Regions from separate parts of the Homo sapiens genome. Here region 2 is linked to region 1. Evidence: fine-mapped expression QTL. A gene starts in region 1. The other region holds a variant in brackets. All regions are shown on one strand. Distances are between the middles of the regions.

The links. PIP is the estimated chance that this variant, and not a neighbour inherited with it, causes the effect.
Region 2: its variant is fine-mapped to the expression of TUT4 in esophagus muscle (GTEx, PIP above 0.99). The same link has a PIP of 0.9 or more in esophagus mucosa, gastroesophageal junction, pancreas, sigmoid colon, spleen and transverse colon.

The regions. Positions count from the first base shown.
Region 1 is chr1:52,549,541-52,565,551 of GRCh38, reverse strand. It overlaps TUT4 (terminal uridylyl transferase 4), which reads left to right and starts at 12,460. Exons shown (of 30, transcript NM_001009881.3): 1 at 12,460-12,621. LOC105378723 (a long non-coding RNA gene) reads right to left here. Exons shown (of 4, transcript XR_007066083.1): 2 at 14,748-14,872; 3 at 14,146-14,195; 4 at 12,715-13,311. RefSeq lists silencers at 11,758-12,157, 12,168-12,277, 12,318-12,447, 12,518-12,847.
Region 2 is chr1:52,402,734-52,418,744 of GRCh38, reverse strand. ORC1 (origin recognition complex subunit 1) reads left to right here and starts at 14,322. Exons shown (of 17, transcript NM_004153.4): 1 at 14,322-14,499. It overlaps PRPF38A (pre-mRNA processing factor 38A), which reads right to left and starts at 14,143. Exons shown (of 10, transcript NM_032864.4): 1 at 13,866-14,143; 2 at 12,906-13,065; 3 at 10,055-10,176; 4 at 7,545-7,630; 5 at 6,121-6,231; 6 at 4,754-4,866; 7 at 4,098-4,124; 8 at 3,886-3,983; 9 at 3,359-3,407; 10 at 1-2,097. The coding sequence starts at 13,995. The coding sequence ends at 2,055. It also overlaps the pseudogene LOC124904850. RefSeq lists a silencer at 1,594-1,888 and an enhancer at 13,624-14,823. The variant TC/C (reference allele first, on the strand shown) is at 12,207.

The DNA.
Region 1 (16,011 bases):
TGTCTGAAGAAGCCTTACTCTCTGCTTCAAAGATGGCACTTTCTTGCTGCACCTTCACATGGTGAAAGGGGCAAGACAGTTTCCTTCCACCTCCTTTTATAACGACACTAATCCCATTCATGAGGATGAAACCTTCATGACTTAATCACTTCCCAAAAGACCCCATTTCTTAATACTATCTCATTGGGTATTAGGTTCCAAAATACGAATTTTGGGGGGACACCAACATTCAGCCTATAGCACTCTTTTTTATTTTTAGAGATGGAGTCTTGCTCTGTCACACAAGCAGGAGTGCAGTGCACAATCACAACTCTCACTGCAGCCTCAAACTCCTAAGTTCAAGGGATCCTCTTGCCTCAGTCTCCTGAGTAGCTGGGACTACAGGCACATGCTACCACGCCTGGCTAGCCTATAGCACTAATTTTTAATTTTTGTGGGTACATAGTAGGGGTATATATTTATGAGTTACATGAAATATTTCGATACAGGCATGCAATGTGTAATAATCTCACAGGGTAAATGGGGTATCTATCACCTCAAGCATTTATCCTTTGTGTTACAAACAATCCCATTTTACTTTTAGTTATTTTTAAATGTACAATTAAATTATTTTGACTATAGTCACCCTGTTGTGCTAGCAAATACTAGGTCTTAGCCATTCTTTCTATGTTTTTGTATATATGAATCCTCTCCACTTCCGTGGCCCTTTCTATAGCACTCCTGAACTTTTCCACCTTTGTATCTTTGCTCTTTGCTTCCTTCTTTTTTCCCCCCCTTGAGACAGGGTCTCACTTTGTGGCCCAGACTGAAGTGTAGTGGTGCAATCATAGCTCACTGTAATGAACTCCTAGGCTCAAGTGATCCTCCCGCCTCAGCCTCTGGAGTAGCTTAAACTACAGGGGTGTGCCACTACACCCGGCTAATTTTTTCAATTTGTATTTAGAGACTGGGTCTCACTATGTTGCCCAAGCTGGTCTCAAACTCCTAGGCTCAAGCAATCCTCTCACCTTGGCTTCCCAAAGTGTTGGGATTACAGGCAGGACCACTGTGCCCGGCCTGCTTGCTCATTTTGACACATACTTCTGACTTGGTTTTTATTTAAATTTTGTCTTGCTCCTGCCAAAATAAGTTTACTGACTACTTTTGTCTCTCCAGATCTGACCTAGACCATTGTACTCTCCTATCAGCATAGGCCAGCTGCCTCATCTTGAAGAGCTGTTAAAATAAAAAGAAAAAAGAGAATGGTAGGAAATCCAGTATACCAAATAGCACTATGGTGGGATTGTGGGTAGTTTATGTCATTTTTCTATAGGTTCAAAATTTTGCAATGTGGTTATGTTATTTTAAATAAAAATATTTGAAGTTTACTGAAGTCACTCATCAAGTGCTTTCATAGATAACTATTGAATTTTCTTCCCTTTCATGATTTCCAAGGATGAATATAAAACTGATATTCCTCTAGCCAACAAGATATGGGGTTTGAGATCCTATCTGGGTCAGAGAATCTGTTCTCCATCTTCCTCCCTTCAAAGCCAACTCTGCACTGCCCCCAGTTTACTTTCCAAAACAGAGATACAAGCATATATTTCCCCTACTTCAAAACTTTGAATGCTCCCCCAGTGTTTGCAGGATCAAGTCCAAGTGACTTAATATGGCTCCCAAGACCTTTTTTTTTTTTTTTTTTTTTTTTTTTGAGACGGAGTCTCACTCTGTTGCCGAGGCTGGAGTGCAATGGCGTGATCTCAGCTCACTGTACCTCCAACTCCTGGGTTCAAGTGATTCTCCTGCCTCAGCCTCCTGAGTAGCTGGGATTACAGGCGCCTACCACCACATCCGGCTAATTTTTGTATTTTCAGTAGAGACGGGGTTTCACCATTTTGGCCAGGCTGGTCTCAAACTCCTGACCTCAGGTCATCTGCCCACCTCAGCCTTCCAAAGTGCTAGGATTACAGGCGTGAGCCACGGCACCGGCCCTTTTACAATCTATTGTCATTCCATCTCTCCAACTTTATCTCCCAGTTGTCTGCAAACCACTTTTTCTTCCTCTCTGTATGTGATATCAGACTACTTGCCATTCCTTAAACATTTATTATATGTTTAACATATATTAACTATTAACATTTTTCACTTTTTTTTTTTAGATGAAGTCTCACTCTGTCGCCCAGGCTGGAGTGCAGTGGCATGATCTTGGCTCACTGCAACCTCTGGTTCCTGGGTTCAGGTGATTCTCCTGCCTCAGCCTCTCAAGTAGCTGAGACTACAGGCCTGCACCACCACGCCCGGCTAATTTTTGTATTTTTAGTAGAGACGGAGTTTCACTATGTTGGCCAGGCTGGTGTCAAACTCCTGACCTCAAGTGATCCACCTGCCTCAGCCTCTCAAAGTGCTGGGATTACAGGCATGAGCCACCATGTCCGGCCCATTTTTCACATTTTTATTGACATAAAACATTTGTACAGTGAGGAGTATAAAATTTAAGTGTATAACTCAGTGGATGTTCACATAAGTATACACGTGTGACCATGACTCAGTAAGATCTAGTTAATTTCCAATTCTCTAGAAGGCTCCCATATCTTTTCCTGTCCATATCTATACCTCCACAGAGATAACCACTATTCTGACTTCTACCAACAAAGATTAATTTTTCCTGTTCTTGAATTTCAAAAAATGGAAACACACCATACGTATTCATCAAAACACAGTACCTTTTTAATTTTCTCCTGCCTGAGAATAGGAGTGTTAAGTATTTGTCATGTGTCAATTCTCTCCTATTCTGCATCCATTGTAGACATTACTAATTCACTAATTTTTCTTGTTGTGCCTAGGTTGGGCTTTAGGCTCTTTTTCTAAACTGCACACCAGCAGCCACTACTAGTTGTTCAGAACTGAAACAACTAGTTGGTACTAGTGAAATCTCCCTGGAGGAGAATGACCTCTTCTACATGAAAACCTTCATCTCCACCACCCACAACACATTTAATAAATTATTTAAGTCTTAACTGATTCTATCACTAATATCTCTCTAATCTGCCCCTTTTCCCACTCCAACTGCTTCTTTTTTTGTTTGTTTGTTTTGAGTGCAGTGGCGCGATCTTGGCTCACTGCAACCTTTGTCTCCTGGGTTCAAGCGATTCTTGTGCCACAGCCTCCCGAGTAGCTGGGATTACAGGTGCACACCACCATGCCTGGCTAATTTTTTATTTTTAGTGGAGATGGGGTTTCACCATGTTGGCCAGGCTGGTCTCCAACTCCTGACCTCAAGTGATCCACCCACCTCGGCCTCCCAAAGTGCTGGGATTACAGGTGTGAGCCACCGTGCTGGCCTATTGCTCCTATTTATATAATCTCTCACCTGATTTTCTGCAGTAATCCCTTACTGTTTCCTCTGCTTTCAGTTTGGCTCTTCTATTCTTTTCCACACACTGCTGTTTCCTCTCCAGAAGAAAACAGCATATTTTAAATATCCAAATATAACTACATCATTATCCTGGGTAAGACCCTTGAAGGACTACCTTTCCAGTTAAGCATAAGTGCTTAGCATGGTATTACTGGCCTCATGATCTTGCCCCGCTCATCTCAGTACCATTTTCTATACCTTGCCCCTCCACCCCTAGATGCTAACTACCTGCAGGTTCCTGAATTGTGCCCTGCCCCTTTTCTCTTCTGTGTCTTGAATGCTGTTTGCTCTACCTGGCTAAGTCCACTCACCCTTCAAGACTCAAATGTCTTTTACTATCTTTTTTTTTTTTTTTGAGACAGGGTCTCACTCTGTCACCCAGGCTGGAGTCCAGTGGTACCATCTTGGCTCACTGCAGCCTGTCCTTCCTGGGCTCAAACGATCCTCCCACCTCAGCCTCCTGAGTAGCTGGGACCACAGGCACATGCCACTATGTGCCTGGCTAATTTTCTGTATTTTTAGTAGAGATGGGGTTTCGCCATGTTGCCCAGGCTGGTCTCGAACTCCTGGACTCAAGCGATCTGCCCGCCTTGGCCTCCCAAAGTGCTGGGATTACAGGTATGAGCCATCGCACCCGGCCCCAAATTTTTGTTGATCATTCTTTAGCTACTAAAGTTATTCTCTCCCCGGCAAAATCAATTATCTCTTATTTGTGTACTCATAATACTTTATACATATCCTTATTGTGGCAGTTATATTATTATCTGTTTATATTTCTGAGAGATCCTTGATGGGATAGAACTTTGTAGCTCCAGAACTCATCAGACTGCATAACATTTTCCTCTAATTTAAAAAATTGTGGTAAGGGCCAGGTGCAGTGGCTCATGCCTATAATCCCAGCACTTTGGGAGGCAGAGGCCAGAGGATTGCTTGAGCCCAGAAGTTCAAGACCAACTTGGGCAATATAGTGAGACCTTGTCTCCTATCCAAAAAATTAAAAAATTGAGGAGAGAAGATGGCTGGAGGCTGGGAGATCAAGGCTACAATGTGCTGTGATTGTGCCTCTGTCTGGATGACACAGCAATACCCTGCCTCAAAAAAAAAGTGGTAGAAATACACATAACATAAAATTTACTACGTTGGCCGGGTGCAGTGGCTAATGCCTATAATCCCAGCACTTTGAGAGGCCAAGGTAGGCGGATCACCTGAGGTCAGGAGTTCAAGACCAGCCTGGCCAACATGGTGAAACCCCATCTCTGCTAAAAATACAAAATTAGCCGGGTGTAGTGTCACGTGCCTGTAATCCCAGCTACTTAGGCAGGAGAATCACTTGAACCCAGGAGGCGGAGGTTGCAGTGAGCTGAGATCACGCCACTGCACTCCAGCTTAGGTGACAAGAGTGTAACTCTGTCTCAAAAAAAAAATTACTATATTAATCATTTTAAAGTGTACAGTTCAATGACGTCAAGTATATCCATATTGTTGTGCAACCATCACCATCATCCATCTCCAGGATTTTTTAAATGATTTTTTTTTAGAAGCAGGGTCTTGCTCTGTCATACAGGCTGGAGGACAGTGGCACAATCAGAGCTTACTGCAGCCCCAACTCCTGGGCTCAGGGGATCCATGTGCCTCAGCCTCCCGAGTAGCTGGGGCTACAGGTGCACGCCAGCGTGACTGGCTTATTTAAAAAAATTTTTTGTAGAGATGGGGTCTTACTATGTTGCCCAGACTGGTCTTGAACTCCTGGCCTCAAGAGACCCACCTGCGTCAGCCTCCCAAAGTGCTGGGATTATAGGCATGAGCCACTGCACCCAGCCCACTTTCTTCATCTGATAAAACTGAAACTCTATGCCAATTAAATGATAACTCCCTAGTCTTCCCCTCCCTACAGCCTCTGGCAACTACCATCCTACTTTCTGTGTCTATGATTTTGACTACTCTAATCACCTCATAAAAGTGGAATCATACAGTATATGTCTTTTTGTGATTGGCTTATTTCACTTACCGTAACATCCCCAATGTTCATCCATGTTGTGGTATATTGCAGAATTTCCTTCCTTTTTAAGGCTGAATAACATTCCATTGTATGGATATACCACATTTTGTTTATCCATTCATACACCAATGGACACTTGGGATTGTTTCCACATTTTAGCTATTGTGAATAATTCTCCTGTGAACACGGATGTACACATATCTCTTTGAGACCATGCTTTCAATTATCTTGGGTACACACCCAGAAGTGAAACTGCTGGATCCCATGGTAAGTCTTTTTTTTTTTTTTTTTTGCCCAGGCTGGAGTGCAGTGGTGCAATCTCAGCTCACTGCATCCTCCACCTCCCAGGTTCAAGTGATTCTCATGCCCCACCCTCCCAAGTAGCTGGGACTACAGTCACATGCCACACACCTGGCTAATTTTTGTATTATTAGTAGAGACAGGGTTTCACCATGTTGGCCAGGCTGGTCTCAAACTCCTGACCTCAAGTGATCTGCCTGCCTGTTTCGTCCTCTCAAAATGCTGGGATTACAGGTGTGAGCCACCACACCCAGCCGGTAATTCTATTTTTAATTTTTAGAGGAACCACTATACTGTTTTCCACAGTGACTGTATCATTTTACATTTCCACCATGAGGGTACAAAGGTTCCAATTTCTCCACATTCATAACAACTCTTGTTATTTTCTGTGTTTTGGTAGAGACGGGGTCTCCCTATCTTGCCCAGGCTGGTATTCAACTTTTTGTTTTAATAGCCATCCTAATGGGTGTGAAGTGGGATCTCATTGTAGTTTTGACTTACATTTCCTTTATGATTAGTGATGATATATCTTCTTTGGAGAAATATCTGTTCAAGTTATTTACACATTTTTCAATTTTTTTTGGTTGCTGAGTTACAAATATTTTCTCCCATCTTGCAGGTTGCCTTTTTACTCCGTTGATCATATCTTTGTTTTTTCTTTTCTTCTTTCCCTTCTCTCCCTTCCTGACTCTTGCTCTGTTGCCCAGTCTGATTCCTGGACTCAAGCCAGGAGTCCTCTCAACTCAGCCTCTTGAGTAGCGGTGACTACAGGTGTATACCAGTGCCCCCAGTTCTGATAGTGTCTTTTGACAAACAAATGTTTTACATTTTCATACAGTTTTTCTTTTGTTGCCTGTGCCTTTGGTGTCATATCCAAGAAATCATTGCCAAATCCAATGTTGTGAAGCTCTTGCCCTATGTTTTATTGTAAGAGTTTTATAGTTTTAGGTCTTATGATCCATTTGAGTTAATTTCTGTATATCGTCTAAGGTCAGGGCCCAAGTTCATTCTTTTGCATCTGGGTATTCCATTCTCCCAGCACCATTTACTGAAAAGACTGTCTCTTATCCATTGAATGGTCTTGGCATCCTTGCTGAAAATCATTTGACCATATATGTGAGGATTTATTTCTGGAGAGAGGGCATTACATTTTGTAGGGCACAAAGGTGCATCAGAGTGTAGACTGTTCTAATACATTTGAATTGGTCAGAGGGAGATTGTTTAGAATGGAGTTGGATCTCATTTTTGTTTCAAAGAAAAAGGAGAGAGATTTGACTTGGGGGGGGGGCGGTAAATTAGCTGACTTAAAGGGGGTTTGAGACCGGCCTGGGCAACATGGTGAGACCCCCACCTCTATAAAAAATAAAAAATTAGCCAGGCATGGTGGTGTGTGCCTGTAGTCCCAGCCACTCGGGGGGCTGAGGTAGGAGGATGGCTTGAGCCCAGGAGGTCAAGGGTGTAATAAACTGTGATCATCCCACTGCACTCCAGTTTGGGTGACAGAGTGAGATCCTGTCTCAAAAAAAATAAAAAAGAATTGGCCGGGTGGAGTGGCTTATACCTGTAATCCCAGCACTTTGGGAGGCTGAGGTGGGCAGATCACCTAAGGTCAAGAGTTTGAGACCAGCCTGGCCAACATGGTGAAAGCCTGTCTCTACTAAAAATACAAAAATTAGCTGGGCGTGGTGGCGTGCACCTGTAGTCCCAGCTACTCGGGAGACTGAGGCAGGAGAACCGCTTGAACCCGGGAGGCAGAGGTTGCAGTGAGCCAAGATCATGCCACTGCACTCCAGCCTAGGCAACAGAGTGAGATTCTGTCTCAAAAAAATAAAATAAAATAAAAAAGAATTACGGATTTTTAGACTCCTTTCCTGCCCTAGTTTATCTGGTTCACACCCTTTTCTTTCTTTTTACATTTAAGAGTCAGGGTCTCACTCTGTCACCCAGCCTGGAGTGCAGAGGCACATTCATAACTCACTGAAGCCTCCACCCCCGGGCTCAAGTGATTCTCCCAACTCGGTCTCTCAAGTAGCTAGGACTACAAACATGCACCACCATTCCTGGTTAAATTTTTAATTTAATTTAATTAATTTATTTTTTGAGACAGAGTCTCCCTCTGTCATCCAGGCTGGAGGGCAGTGGCATGATCTTGGACCACTGCAACCTCCACCTCCCAGGTTCAAGTGATTCTCCTGTCTCAGCCTCCTGAGTAGCTGGGACTACAGTCGTGTGCTATGCCCAGCTAACTTCTGTATTTTTTAGTAGAGATGGAATTTTAACCATGTTTGCCAGGCTGGTCTCGAACTCCTGATTGCCAAGTGATCCAACTGCTTTGGCCTCCCAAAGTGCTGTGATTACAGGTGTGAGCCATGGTGCCCAGCCAAATTTTATTTTTTTGAAGATGGGGTCTCACCATGTTGCCCAGGCTGGTCTCAAGCTCCTGGCCTTGATCCTCTTGCCTCAGCCTCCCAAATTGCTGGGATTACAGGTGTGAGCCATCATGCCTGGCTCCCTCATTTTTATGTATAAAGAAGGCTGATGTTATTCCTAAGGTCAGGATTACCAACAAATATGTATCACAGAAGGAAAAGTCCAGCTCTGTTGAGGAAGTACTTCTTTTTCCTGGAACAGGCAGATTTGGTAAGGAATGAGCTCTCTATAGCTATGAATGTACAAACAGAAGTCAGACGAACACCTGCTGTATAAGGCAAGTCTGAACATCTCTCTCCTTGTTTACAGATGTTCCATGATTGCCCATTAACTTCAGAATAAAAACTTGCTTTTTTAACAATGATGCGGTCCTAGTCTAACTTTATAGCATCATCTTCTGCCATGTATATATGTTCTTGATATCTCTAACTTTATGAACGCTAATGTCCTTTTAAATTCTAAAATCTTATTCACTTAAAAAAATGCCACCTTAAGAAAAACTGACTGTTTCTAATGTTTCAATGAAGTAAGCTGCAGGGTGTGGCTGTAGTTTAAAATTCCACGCATAGAATCCTCAGGACAGATGAAATGGAATCAACAGGTAGAAAGTACACACATGTGCTAGTGTGAGTCTAAGGGCACATGAAATCCAAATGGGGCAGATGAGAAGAAACTAAATTTTAAGAAGAAAGGGAATTCATTTGTGTGGAACATTTACTATGAAATAGGCATTTTTACACATTTTCATCTCATTGACTTTTAAGAATGCAAACAGACAAAGAGAAGTAAATCCTTTACACTATCTTGAGGTGAGCACACACCTCAAGAGCTTTGGTATTGTCATGATCTTTGCAAGAATCACAAAAATTTTAGACACTGACCATATCTTATGCTTTATAGACAATTTAGAGTGTCAACAAGCAATTTCTGAGTGCTTTCTATATGTGTCAGGATTATGCTGGGTGCTGAAAATACAAAGGTAAAGGAGACTTGGTTAGGACCACATCATGGGGGTGATGCACTGTTTTTCACTAGAGATCATTATCACCCAGGGCCTATAGTCTCTCTCCTTGGAGAAATCAAGTACACAGGAAAAAAAAAAATGGGGCTCAGAGAAACAGCTTAGCAGGTCTGATTGTATTTATCTCTGCTTACAAGTGATCAGTGATTCCCCAATAACTATAATATAAAGCCTGCTTTTTTTCCAGTGGCATACAGGGCCCTTTATGATCAAACAGCAAAACTTGGTTTGAACAGACTTAGGCACCTTTCTTTTTTCTTGAAATGGAGTCCTGTTCTGTCACCCAGACTGGAGTGCAGAGGCATGATCTCGGCTCACTGCAACCTCTGCCTCCCGGGTTCAAGCGATTCTCCTGCCTCAACCTCCTGAGTAGCTGGGATTACAGGCACCCACCACCATGCCTGGCTAATTTTTGTATTTTTAGTAGAGATGGGGTTTCACCATGTTGCCCAGGCTGGTCTTGAACTCCTGACCTCAAGTGATCTGCCCACCTCGGCCTCCCAAAGTGCTGGGACTAGGCACCTTTCTTGTTATAATTTTACTTACCAAGTCACCTTTTCATTCAATATTATTAGTTTTTTACTAAGTTTTCTTATTCACCTAGGAAGACAACAGAATATGAATATTGATCCACTGAGTAATTATATTCCTCATGAGATACAATGAAATAAGATTTTTACTGCAAGTTATTTTCACCTGGGTTTGGATGAAACTAAGTTTTCAGAACTTCCAGACTGGAGGCTTAACCACAATCATGAGATTTCCCTTGAAAGTTTAAGTCCTCAGAGGATTTTTACATAGAAATCAGACATTTACCATTTTATATCTCAAAAACCTGTGGTTCAATGGGAAGAATACAGGGCTGGTATTCTAGTCCAGCCTGTGACTTACTGTATGACCCTGGGCATGAATTAAACCTTATACTCCATAAATTTCCTTATTCTTTGTGTCAGAACCATACTTGCTCTAGCTGTGATGATAAAATTATAGTTGTCAAAATTTTCAACTCGACAACTATGTAGGTATCAGAAGGAATACCTTGTAAGTATCTGTGCTGAAGTGTACAATCTATTGGGGTCACGGAATTCAGAGAATAGAGGGATCACATTCAGTGGAGTGCAGAGGAGGGGTGGTAATCAGGAAGATTTAATAAAGAAGGTAGAGGTTGAGCTGGGTCTTGGGGAATAAGCAAGGTAGTAGAAGAGAGTATCTGGAGGGGATAAGGGCAGAGAGGCACTGAAATTTTCAGTCTGGCCCCAGTTTTCTTTTCCAGATTCATTATCTTCTGCACACTCCAGAGTCAATGCTGCCCTCTGAATCACAGACATGTGTCTGGCACACAGCAGACAGATCTTCAAGGTCCAGCTTTTAGTTCTTCCACGGAAGTCTCACCAAAGTGGAATTTATCACACTCTCCTCTGGATTTGCCCAGCCCTTTGTTAATAAGACCTGTTGCTTTTATTGTAGCTCACCTGCTTGCTCAATGGGGAACTTTTTGGAGACAGGAAGCAATGATTTGTCTTTGTTTCCCTAGGCACCTAACAACGCTTTGCTCTTAAGTAATTAGGAAATGTTTACTCAATTGAACTTGTTCTAAGGACACTGCTATCACTGAATTGAAGGGCATGTCGGTATCTTCTTAGTGTCTCTATAGGCTTTAGGCTTTCAGCCGGGTGAAGTAGGGATTTTTTCTTTGTTTCCAGGCTAGTCAAGCGAAGCAGGGATACAGATTAAGAATTTGCAGATGAGGAAACTCAAGAGGGTACATTTGCTCAAAGGCATCATGTTGATAAACGCCAAAACCAGGTAGGGCTCTTTTGACTTGAAATCCAGTCCTCTATCCATTATACCTGGGCCTTGTAGCATCAGCCAGATTGGGGTAAAATGCACTAACTCTGAACCCTAGTTTTTTCATCCGTAAATGAGAGCAACAGTACGTAACTCACAGGGCTATCGTGAAGTGGAGCGTCCCTCTGTGACCTCTAACCAGTCCCAGCCTGAGTCACATTATAAGAAAATTTATAAGGCACTATCTTGTAAATACTTAAGATTTAACATCTTCCCTTCACCTCTACGTCCACTCTTTTCATACCTTTTTCCTGCCTAGCATGTGTCAAACTCAAAGGACTGGGCACAGAGCACAGAGGTTGTGTGCTTTGTCCAGCTTTGAGGTCAGAGATTGGCTAAATAATCTCTGAGGCTGGGGTCTTAAAAAAAAACAACAAAAAACAAAACTAACAAAACCTTAAGTCCGTTCCGCCCGTGACTTTAAATAATTATGTAGAGGAATGTAATACGTTAAAAGCAAGGGGATGAGGGGGCCCATTGATGGTAGATGGTTTTATGCCCGCCTGCAGCTAAAGAAATGATTTCTAAAACCTCTTTTGGGGGTGGGAGATGGAGTGCTCCAGAGATTTCTCTTCGAGCTCCTTCATTCCTGAACTGCCTGCCTTTTCAAAGGAAAAAAGGTCCAGCTGCGGTGGGCTGGAGGCCGTGGTGAGTGGGTGGGGGTCGACCCTGGCGGCTTCCTCTGCCCCGCTCCCTACCGTTGCTCCGAAGCCCGCTTGGGCTTCCGAGGGTCCGCCGAGGCTCGGGCCACGCCCAGTCCGAGTGCCAGGCCAGAGGGTACCCATTCCAGGCCGGCCTTCCTCCCCAGGGGGAGCAGCCTTGGGAGCGAGGCGCCGAGGCGGCCCTCGGGCTCGGCTTCCAGCTCGGGGGCCTCGGCAGAGACTAGGAACCAGACTGGGGCAGCACTGGGGCGCCCGCCACCCCCACCCACTCCGGCAAGCGGGCGAATCAGCGCGGCTAACCCGCGGCGCCCAGGCGGGCTGCGGGACCTCGCGACCTCCGCTCGGCGGCCCCGCCCCTGCCCGCGAGCCCCGGGTGGCTCCCTCCTCCCCTCTGCCAGCGGCCCGCCCCCTCCTCGCGAGCTAACGAGTGTCTCTCGCGCGCTCCCTTCCCTCCGCGTGGGTGTGAGTGCGCGATCCTCCTACCTCGGCCTTCTCCCCATTGTTTCTTCGCGGCCACCACGAGACCCCTCCCCCCAGTGCTGTTTCCCCCCTCCCCCGCCCCGGTGTAAACGGTGCCTGTGGGGCCCCCCGAACGAAGGGAGGGGGCACCCCTGAACCCTTCCCTCTGCGCGTAGCTCCTCCTCTCCCGGGCCAGGACCCCATTACAGGCTCTGTCCTCTCCCCTCCCCCTCTCCCCCGGCAACCGCTCTCCCTCGCCCCCTCCCCTCAGCGGGTCCTCCTCTTTCTCTCCCTCTCCCTCTCCCTCCTCCTCCCCCTCCCCATCCCTTCCCCCCCACAATGCAGTTCGCGGCGCGGCGGACATGGCGGTGGAGTCCTGAGCTAGTCGTGTCCCGGCCTCCAGCGGCGGCAGCGGCGACGGCGGCGGCAGCAGGAGGCGGAGGGAGAGCAGGAGCCACTGAGATGAGGAGGCGTCGCGCGCGCCTGTAGCTCGCGGGCCTCGCAGGTACGAGGTTCCGGCCGCGGGGCAGCGTCGGGTACCGAGGGGGTGTGCTCGGGAAGGCCGGGCGGCCCCCGGTTCGCCCTCCCCAGGTGCCGCGCTTCGCAGGTGTCGGGGGCCTGGCCTGAGAGCGTCTCAGCCGCCCCCTGGGGGCCTGACACTTCTTTCTTTCCTGGAACGGGCTTCGGGTGTCCCAGGGGAAGGCTGAGATAAGGGAGGTGGGGACGGCGGCCTGGGCGGCCTGAGGAGGGCATTGGGGCGCTTTGGGGACGAACTCCACACTGTGGCTGGGGCTCCCGGTCCCGGACCGAAACCTGTTGTAGACCAGCGGGGCGGATTTTGAGTTAACGGGATTGGTTTGAACATTTCTGTTGGGTCCAGTTACGATTCCCTGTCATGTGTACCTTTTTCTTTCACCCTTGCTTAGACATAGGTGACTACATAATGTATATAAATGTATACACGCATATAATACATACTGAATGTTTCCCCGGGCTCGTCCTTGTAGGGAGAAGGCAGAGGTGTCTGTGTGGATTTTGTTTCTTGCTCGCCCGCCTTCTCTCTCCCCCGCCCCCCAGTCGAAAGGTGGTAATGCGCGGTTTTGACGTGGGTAACTGAGATTCGTATTTGTAAACAGATAGCGCTCTCCTAGTGTGTTGCACGCCTCTGCGAAGGGTTTCAGACTCCTGTTGGTATCTGGATTGCGAAAGAATGAGATGTTTAGACCTGAAAGAAGCACATCAGCGGGATTTCTAGTCGTACTTGAATGGGATGAATTACTGTTGTATTAACAACGTTGATTACACATTTTCTTTTCAGAAGATTTCGAAGTCTTAGATGAATTTTGCGTGAGATCTTAGATACCGTATATCTGCTTCTTCATTTTGATAGAAGTAGTAGTTCCTTACACATTTGACCTGCCCTATCGTGATCTTAAATTGTGTCCAGAAATGCAATTCGAATTGTGTATTGTTGGCATGCATTTAGTAATTAGCCCGAGTGGATCAGATGGCCTTTTATTTCCAAAGATTTTTTCCCTCCAGTCTTACAGCAGCGAAATGTTTGTAGCACTTGATGAAACAGAACATATCCTGTTTCTGTTTTTAAAGTAATGAGAACTGTTAGCTAATAAAATTGGATAATCCCAGCCAGATATGATAATTCAGAGAATACCACCGAGAGGTGTTGAATTGTGGGATGGTTTAAAAAGAAAAGCCGACTTTGTGTGTGTGTGTGTATGTGTGTGTGTGCGCGCGCGAGCGCGCTGAAATTTTCTTTAGGCTTAGAACTCATGTATGTCACTACACTGCATCGTAGTACTGATTAGTCACAACTGGTAAAATGAAATATTGATTCTCTTAAAAAGCTGTGCTTAAGATAACTCATTAGTGTCTAGTGTGCTATGTTGCTTTTATAAACAAATTTTTAAAGATTGCTTCTTAGAAACCATATACTTTGGGGAAGATAAGAATTTTAAGTCGTTTTATGCTTTAAAAATATTTATATTTAATATAAACAAAAGAAACTTACTTTTAAAACTCTTAGATAAATTTTTCTGCTGCTTGCAGTTTTTCACTTGGCTAGTGTGGAAAATGAAAAATGAAGTTTTCTTAAAATAATTCAGAAATGGAAGTGAAAGTTAATGACATTTGATGTTTTAAATCCAGCAAACATTTAAATACAGAAAAGAAATTTAAAGTATTTTCATTGTCATAGGCCAAGTTGTTAGTACAGATAAATTAACAAATATTGTCATGCATATAAGTTCAAGTTTATAAATTCTAAGTGACACCTAAAATTACATTTATTTTTAGTTGCTGGAGCTAGAACAGTACAGTGTCTACATTTTAATTTTAGACCTTTTAGAATCAAAATGTATAATTATAAATTTCTCTGATTAACAAAGAGCTGTTTAAAGAGAATTTTTATTAGCTCTCAGCAGATTCATTTTAGAGTAAGTAATTAGAATTCTTTTTTATCTCAAAGTTAATCTTGACATAAAAATAAGTACCATTAATTATGTTGTGTTCTCTACAGAATGTCAAATCAGGATCTGTTGATCAAGAAAGGTGTTTGAATTTATTCACTGTTAAAGTTTCTAGTTTCAGAGAAACAAAATAACCAACACTTACCTGTAGGGCCTGGCCAGGTGGCTCACTCACGCCTGTAATCTCAGCACTTTGGGAAGTGGAGGCGAGAGGATTGCTTGAGCGTAGGAGTTTGATATCAGTCTGAGCAGCATAGTGAGACTTTGTCACTGCCAAAAAATAAAAGAAATTAGCTGGGCGTGGTGGTGTGCGTCTGTAGTCCCAGAAGCTGAGGTAGGAGGTTTGCCTGAGCCCAGAGTTCAAGGTTGCAGTGAGGCACAGTTGCGCCACTGTACTCCAGCCTGGGCGACAGAGTAAGACCCTGTCTTAAACAAAAAAAAAAAAAAAAAAAAGCAATACTTACCTGTTAATGTTGATGCCAGAACATTTTGTTTGACAAAATAGAACTCAATGAGTTGTGTTCCTTTTTCAAATAAATTGCAAATACTTGAATTGATTAAAAAATGTTAAATTCAGTTAAAGCCACTGCAGTAGGATAGAAATACGTTCTAAAAAAGAACAATTCCAGAAAGACCTAAAAAAGTCAAAGGAAAGGGACACCATACTTTAAAACAGGATATGTAGACTTTTTGTTATTAATCTTAGAGCAATTAGAGTTGTTTACTGGGTACTAACTGAATTGTTTTAATTCTAGAATCCTAAATAATTACATAATTTGGGGGAAATGTTTAAAAACCATCATTTCTGCAGAGTATTTTTCTTTCCTTTTTTAAATCTTTATTTTATTATGTACAGACTATATTCAAATAAACCACACACTCTGAAAAAGCAGGTTCCGACTTTTCCTCCGGAGTATTTCTTACAGGCCCAAGGAGAAGAAAGGGTATATAAATGCAAAGATTAATGTTAGGATTTTTCCCCCTTAAGTGAGAGATTTGTGTGGTGTCTTATGTTCAAATTATTTTTATGTCACATCATCTCATTGGATATCTATAATTATGAGTTGAGGGAGAGAGAAGGGAACCAAAACTTTTTAGAGTGCCTGTTTTGTTCCAGGCACTGCGCTAGACACTGTTTATGCATTTTTTTTTCACTCGTTCAGTGTAACAGCCCTTTGAAACCTGTTTATAGGTGAGGAATCTTTGAGTCACAGAGGTTAGTGATTTGCTGAAGATCATAGAATTAGATTTCAAAGCAGATCTCTCTTCCTAATATAATGTATATGTGATGTTGCTTTTCAGGTGTATTATTTTCTCAATTATTTAGAATGGGAAACTGCCTAAGGTTGTTCATTCATTCATTTAAACATTCATTTCATCAAACATTTGCATTTGTATCAGTCTACATA
Region 2 (16,011 bases), 150 kb after region 1:
CAGAAAGAGCCTTACAGCAAGGTTTGTCCTCAAGCTCCATCTCCTGTGTAATTTTATCAAAACGATATCTACAGACATGCAACATGTCTTACTCTTACCTCCTTCTTCTAATTAAAGAATAGGGACATTCTCTTTCCTGCTATTGATTGGCTGTGGTACCTCAATTTTGGTCCACATATTACCATATGTCTAAACAAGTATGTTTTAATGTTTGTTTAGGGAGGTTTATTTCTGTTACTAAAATTTATTGGGCTTTGTGCGTGGGTTTATTTTTACTTTAAAACATATTTTAAGACAAAGTTTTATTTTAAGAGTGTACTGGATGACAGCTTGGTTGGTCCATGGGTCATTTCTGTCCATGCCAGAAGACATTTCTTTCTACCTAGATCACTTTCATAAAGAAATAACTGCTATGACACTGTAATACATTTACGTACAGATGCTTATATTTAATCTTAAAAGGTAGTCCTATATAGTTCTATCAGAAACCGTAAGAGCTCTTTCAGACCACTTTTATTAACTCAGGTATTACGAAAGGAACCATTGAAGAATATGAAAGCTCAAATAAGATTAAAAAATGCTTTAATACTGCTGAAGTCTTTCAATTCTAGAGCAGGCATAGAATATATAGAATGTTTACCTTATGACCAGATACAACCTCCCAAGAAAAACTGGATCCTGCAGGGCAGCTGGTCTTCACAGTTCCTGCTGGGACTACAGTTGCAGAAGTCATTCCATCACTTTTCTCTTTTTAAGGGAGTTAAGTACAGGTAAAGGAACTCTTCTAGCAAAGATCTTAATAATCTCTTGATTATCGATGTCCGTGGAGGCTTTTTAGTCCTTCCTTTGCTTCTGCATTCTTGACCCTTGGCTTCTTTCACTCACTCTCTCCTAATTCTCCTGTCTTTCTGAATGGGCCATTCCAGTTTTCAATAGGTGACTTCTATTTCTTCCTGTGTTGGTGTTGCCTATGGTTCTGTTGTGTGCATTTCTGATATATATTAACACTCTGGGAAGTCTTATTGACAGATTCCACCATTACTTAAACATTGTCAATTCTGGCCTAGATCGCTATGTTAAACTCTGGTCCCTATCTCCAACTTTATGGGCTTTTGTTTTTAGCTATACCATAGCTGTCTCAAATTAAACTTGTTAAACTGAATGCATCATTTTCATTACTACCACCATCCTCTAATTCTCTGCCCCTCTAAAAGCTGTCTCTTCCTGCTGTATTTTCTGACTTTGTGAATGGCACGACTGTCTAGCAATTTAGGTCAAAACCATGACTAATATTAGATACTTTCCTCTCCATCAAATCTTTTTCAATCCCGTTACCCTACTGCTACTGACTAGGCCTGGATAATGTCAATGCTTATATGATAAAGGCTGGATACCTTAACCTGGATTTCAAGCTTGTGGGCAAGAACAAATGAAACTATGAAAAAATGGGCTGTATAAAGGGTATTAAGTGCTGCTCTCTGTTGAACTGTTTGATGAAACTGGCTTTAATGATCCAGAAGCAGCCTTACATTTGAATGCATTCTATTCTTTCAAAACTGCTACAAACCAGTTTTCATGTTTATTACCACTTGCTGCTGCTGGAAAAAAGTTAGGAGCAACTATGTTTTACTCCTTTGATCTTTGAATAACAGCAGCAGCACAAATCCCAGGATTCTCAAAGCAGTTCCAACCACAACAAACCAAAAACTAAACTACAGCGAAATGGGAAACAGGTGTGTCCGGTTTAATAAAAAGGGAAAGGGTCATCAGGTGGCCACAGCCTTTCCTTGTCAGTCATATCCCCAACCTCCAGATCCTTTATACTCTCATAAGTTTGAATACAGTCAAGGTTAGTTGGGTCAAAAACTGATGTTGATTATGATTAAAAAGATACAAAACTCAGCACCTCCTTCATTAAAAATAAAGGTTGAGAAACTTGATAAGAAAAAAACTAAAATATTCTTATAGCTGCCTGGGGGAGATCTTAATCCTTCCACATACAGATATCCTTATATCCACAGGAGGCCATGTGGACTAAAACCAAACTGAGTCCATTACTCATTCCCTCTCCGGCTCTTCTTGTGGCTCTTCTTAGACCTGAAATGGCAACACATATAAATAATTATATTAAGAAGCAGCCAGGCACGGTGGCTCACGCCTGTAATCCCAGCACTTTGGGATGCCAAGGTAGGCAGATCACCTGAGGTCAGGAATTCGAGACCAGCCTGGCCAACATGGTGAAACCCTGTCTCTACTAAAAGTACAAAAATTAGCCGAGCATGGCGGCGGGCACCTGTAATCCCAGCTACTCAGGAGGCTGGGACAGGAGAATTGCTTGAACCCGGGAGGTGGAGGTTGCTGTGAGCCGAGATTGGGCCATTGCACTCCAGCCTCAATGACAGAGTGAGACTCCATCTCAAAAAAAAAAAAGGAGTCCTGAGAAAGACCTTGGTATGCTGACATTGATGGGGATGGAGCTGACACTCAATATTCATTAAACTGCTTGGTATTTTTTTGACTCAGAGCAACACTCTTGAGTCAGGCATTACTATCCAAATTTTACCATTGAGGAAATGACCTCTTAGAGGTTAAGAGTACACCAAACAGGCCCGGCGCGGTGGCTCATGCCTGTAATCCCAGCACTTTGGGAGACCGAGGTGGGCGGATCACAAGGTCAGATTGAGACCATCCTGGCTAAAATGGTGAAACCCCGTCTCTACTAAAAATATAAAAAATTAGCCAAGGGTGGTGGCGGGCACCTGTATTCCCAGCTACTCGAGAAGCTGAGGCAGGAGAATGGCGTGAGCCCAGGAGGTGGAGCTTGCAGTGAGCCGAGATTGCGCCACTGCACTCCAGCCTGGGAGACAGAGCGAGACTCCGTCTCAAAAAAAAAAAAAAAAAAAAAAAAAAAAGAGTGCACCCAACGGTATATGGCACATGGGGGTTTCTAATGAAATCTTATCAAATGAAAGTGACTTGTCCAAGGTCACTCAACTGTTAAGTTTTAAAACTTGGGACTAAACCCCATGTTTTCTGAGACCAAAGCTCATCCATTGTCCAAAGCTGCAATCCTGTAAAGCAAAACAGGTATCAGCTTGAACCCGGGAGGCAGAGGCTGCAGTGAGCCAGGTTCACGCCACTGCACTCCAGCTTGGGAGACAAGCACGAAACTCAGTTCTCAAAAAAGAGAAAAAAGAAAAAGTTATCTAACCCCAGTAATTCTCAAAGCAATAGACCAATTTTGTCTTGTAATGCAGGAGAATTCCTAACATCCCCCAACAAAACAAGAAAATTTCAGGTCCAGTTAGTTGTAATTTGGACTATTTCTGTAAAGTTAAAATAGAGGTCAATTCATTACCTTTCGGGAGACTTTGAGTGGCTCCTGTGTCTGTGACTACGGTGATGACCTGGGGAAGAAAAGGCCATTGCATAAGATCCTACCCTTCTACTCTTATTAAACTGTCATTCTCACCTCCCCTAATACCTGCCATTGGCTTAATATTCTTTTGGCCTATGCAGGGGACACCTCTTAGTGGAAGCAACTCTGAATTAGTGGAGGAAGAGGGAGCAAAGAAAGTAGTAATGAAACCAGTTCAAATACATATACATTCAAGGGCTTTATGACTAATTTCACAAACATCATATTGGGTTTTCACTATTATGTTAGATCTTATTCCTCCAATTTTAGATGAAAAAACTAAAGCAAACCTTATCAGCAAAGCTTATAAGTGACAGTCAAGCTGTGAACCTTAATTTTCAAATTCTATGTCCATTTGCTTTTCTGTTAGGCAGTACAGTCAGGCACTCCTGTACTGCAGGAGGCTAACTACTCCTTTTACATTTCTTTGTTAAGACAACCTGTGGCAAAAGGCCCACAAGCTTTACCTGGGGACTTGGAACGGGATCTGTGCCGCCGATCTCGGGACCTGCTGCGGTGACGTCTTGGACTCTTGCTCCGATGCCTTTCTCGGCGAGGGGAGGGGCTGTAGAAAAGACTGGTCAGACTACCAGATCTGGTTAGCAATATACATATAACACCAATACCACCACCCCCTCCCCAAAGCCCTATCCTTCATCACAAATGACTGAAGGCCTACCTTCTCCTTTTGGGAGATCGACTCCGCCTATAAAGAGGAGAGGAAGAAGAAAGCCTAGGTTGGCGCACTGGATGTGGTAGATTGCAAAAACGGCCCCAATCTTATCCTTCACGCTTCTCTGTATCACCCACCTCTGTATCCATGTCTTTTGTCACGTAACTCTAGCACCCTCCCATTCTAACTTTAGGACTGGTGACATGACTCGCTTTGGCTAATGAGATATTTGCAAATGTGATAAAAGCAGATACTGGAAAAACATTTGCATGACCGGGTTTGTTTGCTCTTGAGTTCTGCCACTACCATGAGAATATGCCCAACTTAGCCTGCTAGAGGATGACACAGAGAAGAGAAATTTCCCCCGTCATCCAAGCTAAGGCAATTCCATACCAGCCAGTAGACAGCCGACAACAGAACAGGTACTTTAAAAACTGCCTATCCAAGCTCTGCTTAAATCATTGACTGCAGACTTGTGAAAGGAACAAATGGTTATTGTTGTCTGCCAATGAGGTTTTATAGGTGGTTGTTTTGCAGCAACAGATAACTAATATATTGGGCAAACATTCTCCATAGACGTGCATTTTTCCTTCTCTAAAATCCAAACTTCTAGGCTACAGTGCTCAAAATCTTCTGGGAAAAGGCCAATGACTAGGCTTTACCTTCTGGGAGACCGGCTCCTACTCCTCCTGTAGCGCAGTGTGGGAGAGCGACGGGGCTTGTCCAAGTCTCGGTAGCTTCTCCGGCGGTGATCAGGTGATGGCACTCTTTCCAACTGGAAACAAGATGATTGGGTCATTGAAAGGCACAGGCTTATAAAGAGCCATCTAGGAACACTAATTATACTTCACGCCCCATCTTGTCCCAAAGTCCATCTCCATGTGACTTTAAAGCACAGTAACCTGACTACAAAGAGGGAAGCACTTACCCTATTAACTAACAAAACTTATTATGAGCTATATAAGACAGCCAAAATGACTCATAGGAGAGGGAACAGAAACAGACCTGTGTGTGTGTATGTGTGTATGTTTAGTTTATCTGCAGCCTGGGCAACATGGTGAAATCCCATCTCTACAAAAAAAATACACAAATTAGCCAGGTATGCTGGCACGTGCCTGTAGTTCCAGCTACTTGGGAGGCTGAGATGGGAAGACTGCTTGAGCCTGGGAGGCCGAGAATGCAGTGAGCCACTGCACCTCAGCCTGGGCAACAGAGCAAGACCCTATCTCAAAAAAAAAAAAAGTTTGCTTCCTGGAACAACTGGGCAGCTTGGTTGTTTTCAACTTTTCAGCACCGTAACTAGTACTGAAAGAACATGACTATGCGGTTGACATTTTCCCCCTCCTAAACAAGGTTTATTCCTTAGGATAGGTGCAATTATGAAAGTGTTCTTTCTTTCCAAGTATTTAATAGCTGCCACCATTTATTAGGCAATTATAATGTGCCAATACTCTGCTAAGGGCTTTAAGTTTATAATCTTATTTAATACTTTTAACAGTCTTGGGGAAAAAAGTATCATTAACCTCACTTTACATAGGAGAAAACTAAATTTAAGTAATTTGCGTAAGATTATACTACTAGTATATGGCAGAGCTGAGGTGCTTTTAATAAGGAAATATTGTTTTTGGCTAGAGTTAGAAAAAAAATTTTTTTTGAGACGGAGTCTCACTTTTGCCCAAGCTGGAGTGCAGTGTTGCGATCTTGGCTCACTGCAACCTCTGCCTCCCGGGTTCAAGCAATTCTGCTGCCTCAGCCTCCTGGGTAGCTAGGATTACAGGCACCCACCACAACGCTGGCTAATTTTTGTATTTTTAGTAGAGACGAGGTTTCACCACCACGTTGGCCAGGCTGGTCTTGAACTCCTGACCGCTGGTCATCCACTCGCCTTGGCCTCCCAAAGTGCTATGATTACAGGCTTGAGCGACCACGCCCGGCCAATAGAGTTAAAAATTAAAGTCTAAAAACAAAAAACCATTCCCATTTTCTATTACTCCCTCCCCTACAACCATAAAAGTCTCAGGTGCCAGACCTTCTCATCCTCCTCTTCTTCCTCTTCACTGGACTCCACATCATCCATGTCCTCTTCCAGAGCACTAACTCGAGGCTCCAGTTGCTCAGCTTCCTCTAATACATAGCGTTTCTACAGAGAAAATGATGAGAGTTAGGGGTTGTTGCCATTTCCCCTATTTCTTGAAACCTCAACACTGGGCTTCAGGGTTCCAAGGAGCAACAGCTGAGGCAATTTCATTTCAAAGACAGTTCAAGATTTTCCTAACAAGTTTAATAGACCTGAAATCTATAAAGTTCTCCTATAAACATAAATACAAACCTGAAGAGAACATCTTCATTTTCTATTGACTCTATTCCCTGTACCTTATACTCTAAAGTCATGGGAATATCAATCAGTATAGGTACAGCCTAGAACCAAAAGTAAGGGCTTCACACACAGAGAAAATCCAAGGGCTAATAAGTTCATGGCTGGTAGTTCCACTAGAAGAGGCCTAGCCCTAGAGTAGTACCAAATCTCCAGTAGACCCAGGATCTCGGGAGCTGTTGATATTCATGCATTTTGAACTGGTTCCATTTTAATCTGGGATATGGCTTAGCAATGTTTATTTGAGTGGCTAAGGATCAGAGAGGCAAAGCTGATTTCAAAAATGCCAAATGGCTAAATGTAGTGGCATGTACCCGTGGTCCCAGCTCCTTGGGAGACTGAGGTAGGAAGATCCCTTGAGCCCAGGAGTTTAAGAACAGCCTGGGCAACACAGCAAGACATTGTCTTGCTATAAGAATTGGGCCCTCAAAGTAGGTTTTCAAATTTATAATCTCATTCTTTCCACTACATGCCCTACAGTGCCAACATGGAACAGGAGAGCTGTATCACACTCATTTCCTGAAAAGATGCCTCATGGATAATCGTTTATCACTAGGAAAGGGAAGCAGGATGGTGAAGGCAAGTTTAAGGAATTAATGGCTCAGTCTCCCACTCCTGGCCCTATTTTTATCTGTTTTATGTCCTGGCTTTTTACATGAAGATTAGTTTAAAAAAAACGTTCATGAAGTTAAAAACTCCCTACCTACTCTAGCTACAATACCCTTGATGTAACATCCTGAATAAATTTCTTTTTTCATGATAGACAGGTAATGTGCTGACTTTGTAACAAGGTTTGAGGGAGGCACAACTCACACATGCACCTGAACTACAAAAGGATGGAGAAAAACAAAGTTTCCTTGTTTTAAACCATTCACTTTTAAAGCCCTACCCTTCAAATATTTTATCTATTTTCCTCTCACTCCCAATCCACTATCTTGGGACTCCCAGACAGGAAGACTATTCATTAAGAGGACCCATAAGATCCACAGGCTTCAGTGTTTAAGCTGTGTGTATGTGTTTGTCTGTCTGCCCGTCTAGGAAGAGAAGGGTGACTCTGGTAACAGACTTTTATTTCTTACCTGTAGTCGGGGCAGAATGATATCACAGACTCTCTCACTGTGCAATAGTTCATCAATAAACTCATCAACATGCATCAATTCAAACTCTGCAAGAAAAAGTCATTAGAGCAAACAACCTGGAAATAAAAGATTTAGATGCCAAAAAGTAAAAGAAGTGTTAAGACTTCATATCAGGACATCTATGTGCTAGGCCTCTTTAGAAGAGATTAAGGGATGAATGAAGATGTCCCAATTAGCAGGAGACAAACACAAAAACAAGCACAAACAGTCCTGAATTATGTAGGGATGATCTTGAAGAGATCATATAACTTAAATATAATTTCTCATCTGAACCTTCAATGTTTCTGAATTTAGAACATGTATCTTATATGGCACATGGAGTGATAGCTTTTGAGAACTGGCTAGGAGTGGTGGCTCACGCCTGTAATCCCAGCACTTTGGGAGGCCAAGGCAGGCAGATCACTTGAGGTTAGGAGTTCAAGACAGGCCTGGCCAACATGGCGAAACCCCATCTCTACTAAAAACACAAAAATTAGCTGGGCATGGTGGTGGGCACATGTAATCCCAGCTACTCAAGAGGCTGAGGCAGGAGAATTATTTGAACCTGGGAGGCAGAGGTTGCAGTGACCTGAGACCACACCACTGCACTCCAGCCTGGGCAACAGAGTGAGACTCCATCTCAAAAAAAAAAAAATTATATGTCTATATATATGTGTGTGTGTGTGTATATATATATATACATCTATATATATATAAAAGTATCATTAACCTCACTTTACATAGGAGAAAACTAAATTTAAGTAATTTGCGTAAGATTATACTACTAGTATATGGCAGAGCTGAGGTGTTTTTAATAAGGAAATATTGTTTTTGGCTAGAGTTAGAAAAAAAATTTTTTTTTGAGACGGAGTCTCACTTTTGCCCAGGCTGGAGTGCAGTGGTGCAATCTTGGCTCACTGCAACCTCCGCCTCCCGGGTTCAAGCAATTCTGCTGCCTCAGCCTCCTGGGTAGCTGGGATTACAGGCAATTTATATTATATATAAATTATGTTATATATAAATTATGTTATATATAAATTATATATGATTATGTATATTTATATATTTGTATGTAAATATAATTATAAAATGTATATATATGTGTGTGTATATACACATATACAAATACATATATATACATACATACATATACATATATAGCTTTTGAGAACTTCCATGGTAAACATTACCTTACTTCTGGGGTTCTCAACCATGGGCAATTTTGCACATGCCCATCCCCCTACTTAGAAGGAGGTGTTACTTCCATCTAGTGGGTAGAGGCTAGAGATACTGCTACTCATTCTATGATGCACAAGCCAATCCTCACACAAAAGTTATATGACCCAAAATGTCAATAGGTTCAGAAATTCTTAGTTTTACGTAATAAAATAATAAATAAATAACTCCATCATGGCCATGACCATGTCCATCTTGTTCACCATGGTATTTACACCACATAGCACAGTATGTGACATGTCAATGGCACTTAATATGTATTTATTCAATGAATGAATCAATAAGTTTAAAGTATAATACCAAATTCTATTTTTTTAAGATGGAGTCTTGCTCTGTCGCCCAGGCTGGAATACAGCGGCGTGATCTCGGCTCACTACAATCTCCGCCTCCTGGTTCAAGGGATTCTCCTGCCTCAGCCTCCTGAGTAGCTGGGATTACAGGTGTGCACCTCCACACCCTGCTAATTACTGTAGTTTTAGTAGATATAGGGTTTCACCATACTGACGAGGCTGGTCTCAAACTCCTGACCTCAAGTGATCTGCCCATGTTGGCCTCCTAAAGTGCTGGGATTAGAGGTGTGAGACACCGTGCTTGGCCCCAAATTCTTAACCTTCTACTGTTTAATGATACATGTAGGGGGAAAGGTAAATGTTCCTATCTTCTGTTATGACACCAAGTGAGAAAAGGTTTTGACTGCATTACCTGGAATCCCTCCTTAGCACATTAAGTAATCTCCTTGTAGAAGGTATGGAGCTGCCTCTCTTGGATATACTTATTTTTCAGTGGGATTCCTGTATAAAAATGAGTAGTCTTATATGCTGCAGTGTGAATTACAGTGTTAGAGGAGAGGCCAGTAGAAAGAACTGTGAAGATGTAAAATATGGAAAACTAATTTTGTCTGAGAGGGCTGGGGAAGGTTTTTATGGAGAAGCCATTCTGCAGCTAGATCTTTTGGGATGGAGCACATGTAAAGGGGGCATATGATGCAAGGCAGGGATTAACATAAGATGCACTTGGAAAGGGAGACAGACAGAGGCAGGCTGGGTAAGGCCAACACGAAGCTAGTAGTCAGACTGAAAACTCCCATGAGGGACAAGGGAAAACCTGCATAGAGACAGTAACAATGTAGATGAAAAGGAGCATTCACACTGTCTATGACAATGCAAAGGTAGAAGTACTGGTAAAATAAAAACTGGCTTAAAAATGACAATCAGGAGACTTAGCACCATACTTACCCCCATTTCGGTTCTGGCTCTTGATTTTTCGATAGTCATTGTACAAAGGTTCCAAGTACTTGTAGCAATCAATTGCAGTGCCTGTCAGCCTCATGTAAAGTGCCCCCAGCATGCGGACATACCTGAGAGACAGATGACAGTGAAACAACAGGCCATCCTAGAAGTTCCTGAGTTTTACAACTAGCTGTTCTCATGACAGTAGTGGATAAACATGTTCTTCTCTTTGGCAGGTAAGAAAGCTGCAATTGTGGAGGTAGAATGCAGCAGAAGAAAGACAGCTAAAATATGGAGACCTGAGTTCAAGTTCCCATGCTACCATTTATGGCTGTGGGAACATCATACATATTGATCAACTTTCAAATATATCATCAGTAAAACTAGAATAAAACCTATTTACCTCACAGGATTACTCTAAGAATCAAAAGAAATACTGAATTTTATTTTATTTTTTAAGGCAGAGTCTTGCTCTGTTGCCCAGGCTGCAGTGCAGTGGCACGATCTTGGCTCACTGCAACCTCCGCCTCCTGGGATCAAGCAATTCTCATGCCTCAGCCTCCATGTAGCGAGGATTACAGGCGCCCGCCACCATGCCCAGCTAATTTTTGTATTTTTATTTATGTATTTATTTATTTCTTGAGACAGAATCTTGCTCTGTTGCCCAGGCTGGAGTGCAGTGGCACGATCTCAATTCACTGCAGCCTCCACCTCCTGGGTTCAAGCGATTCTCCTGCCTCAGCCTCCCAAGTAGCTGGGATTATAGGCATGTGCCAACACACCCAGCCTAATTTTTGTATTTTTAGTAGGGACCGGTTTTGCCATGTTGGCCAGGCTAGTCTCAAACTCCTGACCTCAGGTGATCTGCCTGCCTTGGCCTCCCAAAGTGCTGGGATTACAGGTGTTAGCAACCATGCCTGGCATATTTTTGTATTTTTAGTAGAGACGGGGTTTCCCCATGTTGGCCAGGCTGGTCTTGAACTCCTGACCTCAAGCAATCCACCTGCCTTGGCCTCCCAAAGTGCTGGGATTACAGGTGTGAGCCACCACACCTGGCCATATATTGAATTTTAAAACAGAAAGAAGATATATTTAATAACAATACAAGAACAAGTACACATAAACATGACTGCTGGTTTTGGAAAAAAGTAAGTCATCTGGGTTCAAATTCTGACTCCGTAATTTACTAAGTCTGTGACACTACTGGTCAAATCATGTGTTTTCTCAATCCTTGTAAAACGGAGATAATGCTACCTAATTTATGGCTTGGTATATAAACAAGAAATGCATTGAAAGTGCTAAGTATAGCACAGAGCACACAGTAAGTGCCTAACAAAAGTTAGGTATTTTCTAGCTGTTAATGCTTTATTAGAGTCGTTCCAGCCAGGGGCGGTGGCTCACGCCTCTAATCCCAGCACTTTGGGAGGCGAGGCAGGTGGGTCACCGGGTCAGGAGATCGGGACCATCCTGGCTAACGCGGTGAAATGCCGTCTCTAGTAAAAATACAAAAAATTAGCCGGGTGTAGTGGTGGGCGCCTGTAGTCCCAGCTACTTGGGAGGCTGAGGCAGGAGAATGGCATGAACCCAGGAGGCCGAGCTTGCAGTGAGCCGAGACTGCGCCACTGCACTCCAGCCTGGGCAACAGAGCGAGACTCTGTCTCAAACAAAAAAAAGAGTTGTTCCTCTTCCCTTTTTCCTATATCTAACTACTTAAATTTCCTCTTGGGTAACTAGGAGGCTTTTGAAAGTCATAGTTTCTTTGTACGAGAAGCAGAATACTGTAGCAAAGAATATGAACTCTGAAGCCAGATTTGCCACTTACTAGCTGTTTGAACTTGGGCAAAATTAATTAATCTCTGTGCCTCAGTTTCCTCTCCTGTAGAATAGGGATTAAAAGTTTAGAAGGTTGTTGTGAAAGTGAAATGAATTATTATATGCAAAGCCCTTACAGCATGGCACATAAGAAGCTATTATGTCTGTCTCCTATACTTGTTTGTGATTTCCTCGAGAATCGGTAATACGGTAATAAGCTGACATTTTCTAGGTGTTTACCATGCAGCAAGTGCTGTGTTCAGAGATCTGCATGCATTACGTTCTTTCACTCTTATATTATAGTCACCATTTTACAGATAAGCAAAGTTTAGAAAATTAAGTAACC[TC/C]TCCAATGTCATAGTTAATGGGCAACAGAATCTGGATGTGAACCCAGATCTTACACCTCTTAACCACCACCTTTTGTTGTTTGATTTTCACCCCTGAGCGTCCAGTGCCTACCAACATATCAGGCACTCACTTTTGCTTAATATGTATTTAGTGAATCTGTGAAATCCTTTTTCAGGGAAAAATTACCAAAACTGAGAAAGTAAAGTAGAAGATTAATACAATCAGAACAGATAAAATACAAACTTGGCAGGGTGTGGTGGCTCATGCCTGTAATCCCAGCACTCTGGGAGGCCCGGGGGGGGAGGGGATTACCTGAAGTCTGGAGTTCGAGACCAGCCTGGCCAACATGGTGAAACCCCATCTCTACTAAAAATACAAAAATTAGCCAGGCGTGATGGCACATGCCTGTAATCCCAGCTACTCGGGAGGCTGAGACAGGAGAATCACTTGAACCCAGGAAATGGGGGTTGCAGTGGGCCGAGATCGCACCACTGCACTCCAGCCTGGGCAACACAGAGAGACTCTGTTTCCAAAACAAAAAACAAACAAAAAATACAAACTCAAGGGCTCAAAAGCAAAAATCTGGAGTGGAACTCTCTAGAAATGAGATACATTGTGTACACCCCTCTTAACCAAAGCCCAATTCTAAACCGCCAAAATTAAACCTCTTATATTAGCTAGTGAACATTGCACTCACTTGAAATCTTCATTTTTGATAAACTCTACAATGATATCCTTCTCGGGTTGAATTTGAAGCATCTTCAAGGTTAAACACAGAAAGGGTGTTGGTTTTATGTTGCCACCATAGACGCCACCCACAAACCTTAACTCCATGGCTTTATCGACTACAAGTTCAGCTAAAAAACAAAAACAATACAGTAACATATTAGGGCTAAGCTCTTCCTAGTTGGAGTGGAGTTAGTTCAAGCTTTGGTTCTCCTAAATATACATCAACAGTGTAATATTAGGAGAACGAATGTGTATTAATAACAGTAACGACAACAGCTAATATACATTGAGAATGGATAATAAAATAGGTACCCTGCTAAGCTTTTCATATTATCTCACTTAACCTTTTTTAACAAGTCATGAAGAAAGTTCTAGCAATGTTCTTATTTCCAGGTAAGGAAAATGAGGGCTAAGAAAGGTAAAGTGACTTGCTCAAGGTCCACAGATTGTCACAGGACATGGATTTAAAGCCACAATTCAAATCGGAAGATTACCTGGAAGACTTCTCTGAAGCACTGATATTTATAAATACTGGAACCGGCCCAGATCTAAGAATAGTAAGATCATGAATTTGGTTTCAGGCATATTAACGTTAGGTCCTTAAAGACCTTCAACAGATTGTGTCAAAGTGTTATATCCGGATCCCTGAGCTTAACACTGTTGCAACCCAGCCTGCTATCATTAAATACGGAATAACTCACAACACCCAACTGAGACAGCCTTCAGAATATGACCTTACCAGATTCATCTGTGCCTCTAATACTCAACACAAGACGAGGCACTTAGCAGGCACTCAAAATTTTTCTGAATGATCGACATACTCCGTTCCAGTACCACCCCCAGAGGCCAGTCGCTAGTCCTACCCGCGCTCGGTCAGGAGAAATGGGCCACAAGGGGGCTGAGAGGCGCTCCGCGCGCTTCCACTTACCTGTAAGTCCAAAGCACTCCTCTTTCCAGTACTTGGACTCATAGATTCGCGTTCGAATGATCTTCTCCACCAGATATTGAGGGTTGGTGCCATGGATGCTGTGCGCATCCTTCACTGTACGGTTAGCCATTTTAGAATGCCTTCAATTCTATTTCCGTCGGATCCTTTAATGCCTCACATCCAGGTTCAGAAAAAGCACCTAGAGGAATGGAGAAAGGTGGAAGAAGTTTCACTAAACAGCTTAGGCGACCATCTTGAAGCCGGAAACACCGTAGTGTAAAGGGCTTCCGCTCCCCGCGTCGCCTATCGAATCAATGATGGCGGCTGCATGTTAGCGGATGTACGTCATGCGCCCCTCTTAGGTGTACGGAGTGGGCGGGGCGAGCTAGTTGGTGTCGCAACGAAGGGACGGTCTGGGGGCGGGGCCACGCCGATTGGCGCGAAGTTTTCTTTTCTCCTTCCACCTTCTTTTCATTTCTAGTGAGACACACGCTTTGGTCCTGGCTTTCGGCCCGTAGTTGTAGAAGGAGCCCTGCTGGTGCAGGTTAGAGGTGCCGCATCCCCCGGAGCTCTCGAAGTGGAGGCGGTAGGAAACGGAGGGCTTGCGGCTAGCCGGAGGAAGCTTTGGAGCCGGGTGAGTGTGGCGTCCAGCGGGCTGCGAGGGACTCGGGGGAGGGCGCATCGGAACCTCTGAAACTGAGGACGTTCTCTGTAGACTCAGTCATTGATTCTTTTAGCTGACATGTACCAAGCGCCTGTTCAGTGCCAGGCACTGTTCTGAACTGTTAAGAGCGTTCCTCTGTTCCACACTCCGATTCCTAAAAGGCTTCCCGCGCTGCAGGGAACTGAGTTTGCAGGGGGGAAGGCGGAAGCCAACAGCCTAGAAGCAGGAGCATTCCTGCCCTCCGCACCCTGATGCTCAGTGATGACTTTCCCTCCATCTGCATTTGTAAAGCACTCTACTTGTTTCGTTCTTTGAGCTATAGTGTAGGAACCACTACAGGGAAGGCGGAGCAGAGGTTATTACCCCATTTTACGGACGTAAATTGCGCCCAGGGAGGGACGTGTCTTAGGTCGCTTTTCGTGACTAAGCAGTCTGGGCTCCTACCCAGATCTTTTTTTCAGATGAGCTCCTAACTGCTGGGCTGTCTGTCATTCACCTTCTTTTCAGAAGAGAAGTCTGGTGGCCCCCTTCCTACTTCTCTTTTCTAACCCCGGAATTGAAGAGTCTTCTGCTGTGACAGTTGGAAAAGGCATTCTTATCCTGATCTATTTGTGAAACTGCAATGATTATATACGATTCTAGTTGTCTGTAACACATGAATAATAGTACCCTCGTCTCTGCTGTGTTAGGTGGGCTGGAAATGCCAAAGGAGTTTCCAATATGACAGAATGGTTTAAGTCCCTTTGCAACAGTTTTTAACTTTAATGGAGGGCAATATGTGGACTTTAGGAGGTTTGTGAATCTGCCGAAATTGAATGCAAAATTTTGCTTGAATTATGTTAGTTCCATAGTATTCATCAAATGATACTTAATAAATAAAACCACTGTACCTTACAAATAAATGCAAGGGATTAAGGTAGTGGGAAAGTGGATTTACCATTTTGCATTTTTTCACTTAATCTTCCATTATCCTAAAATAGTGCCTGGCACACGATGGGTACTTAATAAATATTGGTTGAATAAACGGAAGATTCTATTTTCTCCATTTTGTGGGTAAGCAAATTGAGGCCCAATCCACAATGTTCAGTCAGTGGCTGGGAAGCCTGATTTATTGTAATAAGTACACCAAAAGCAAGCTCTCAGTTACATATTAACATTATCCAGTTTCACACAGTGTGTTGTAAGGTGAAGTAGTTAAGAGCACAGTAATTGCAGTCTGGCTTTTCCGGGTTTGAGTTAAGGCTGTGCCATCCTGTATAAGATAGGATAAGTTATCACCTTGAAGTGATAATAACATCTACTTTTCTTTTTTTTATTTTGAGACAGAGTTCTGCTCTGTCACCCAGACTAGAGTGCAGTGTTGCGATCTCGGCTCACTGCAGCCTCCACCTCCCGGGTTCAAGTGATTTGCCTGCCACCATGCCCACCTGATTTTTGTATTTTTAGTAGAGACGGGGTTTCACCATGTTGGCCAGGCTGGTC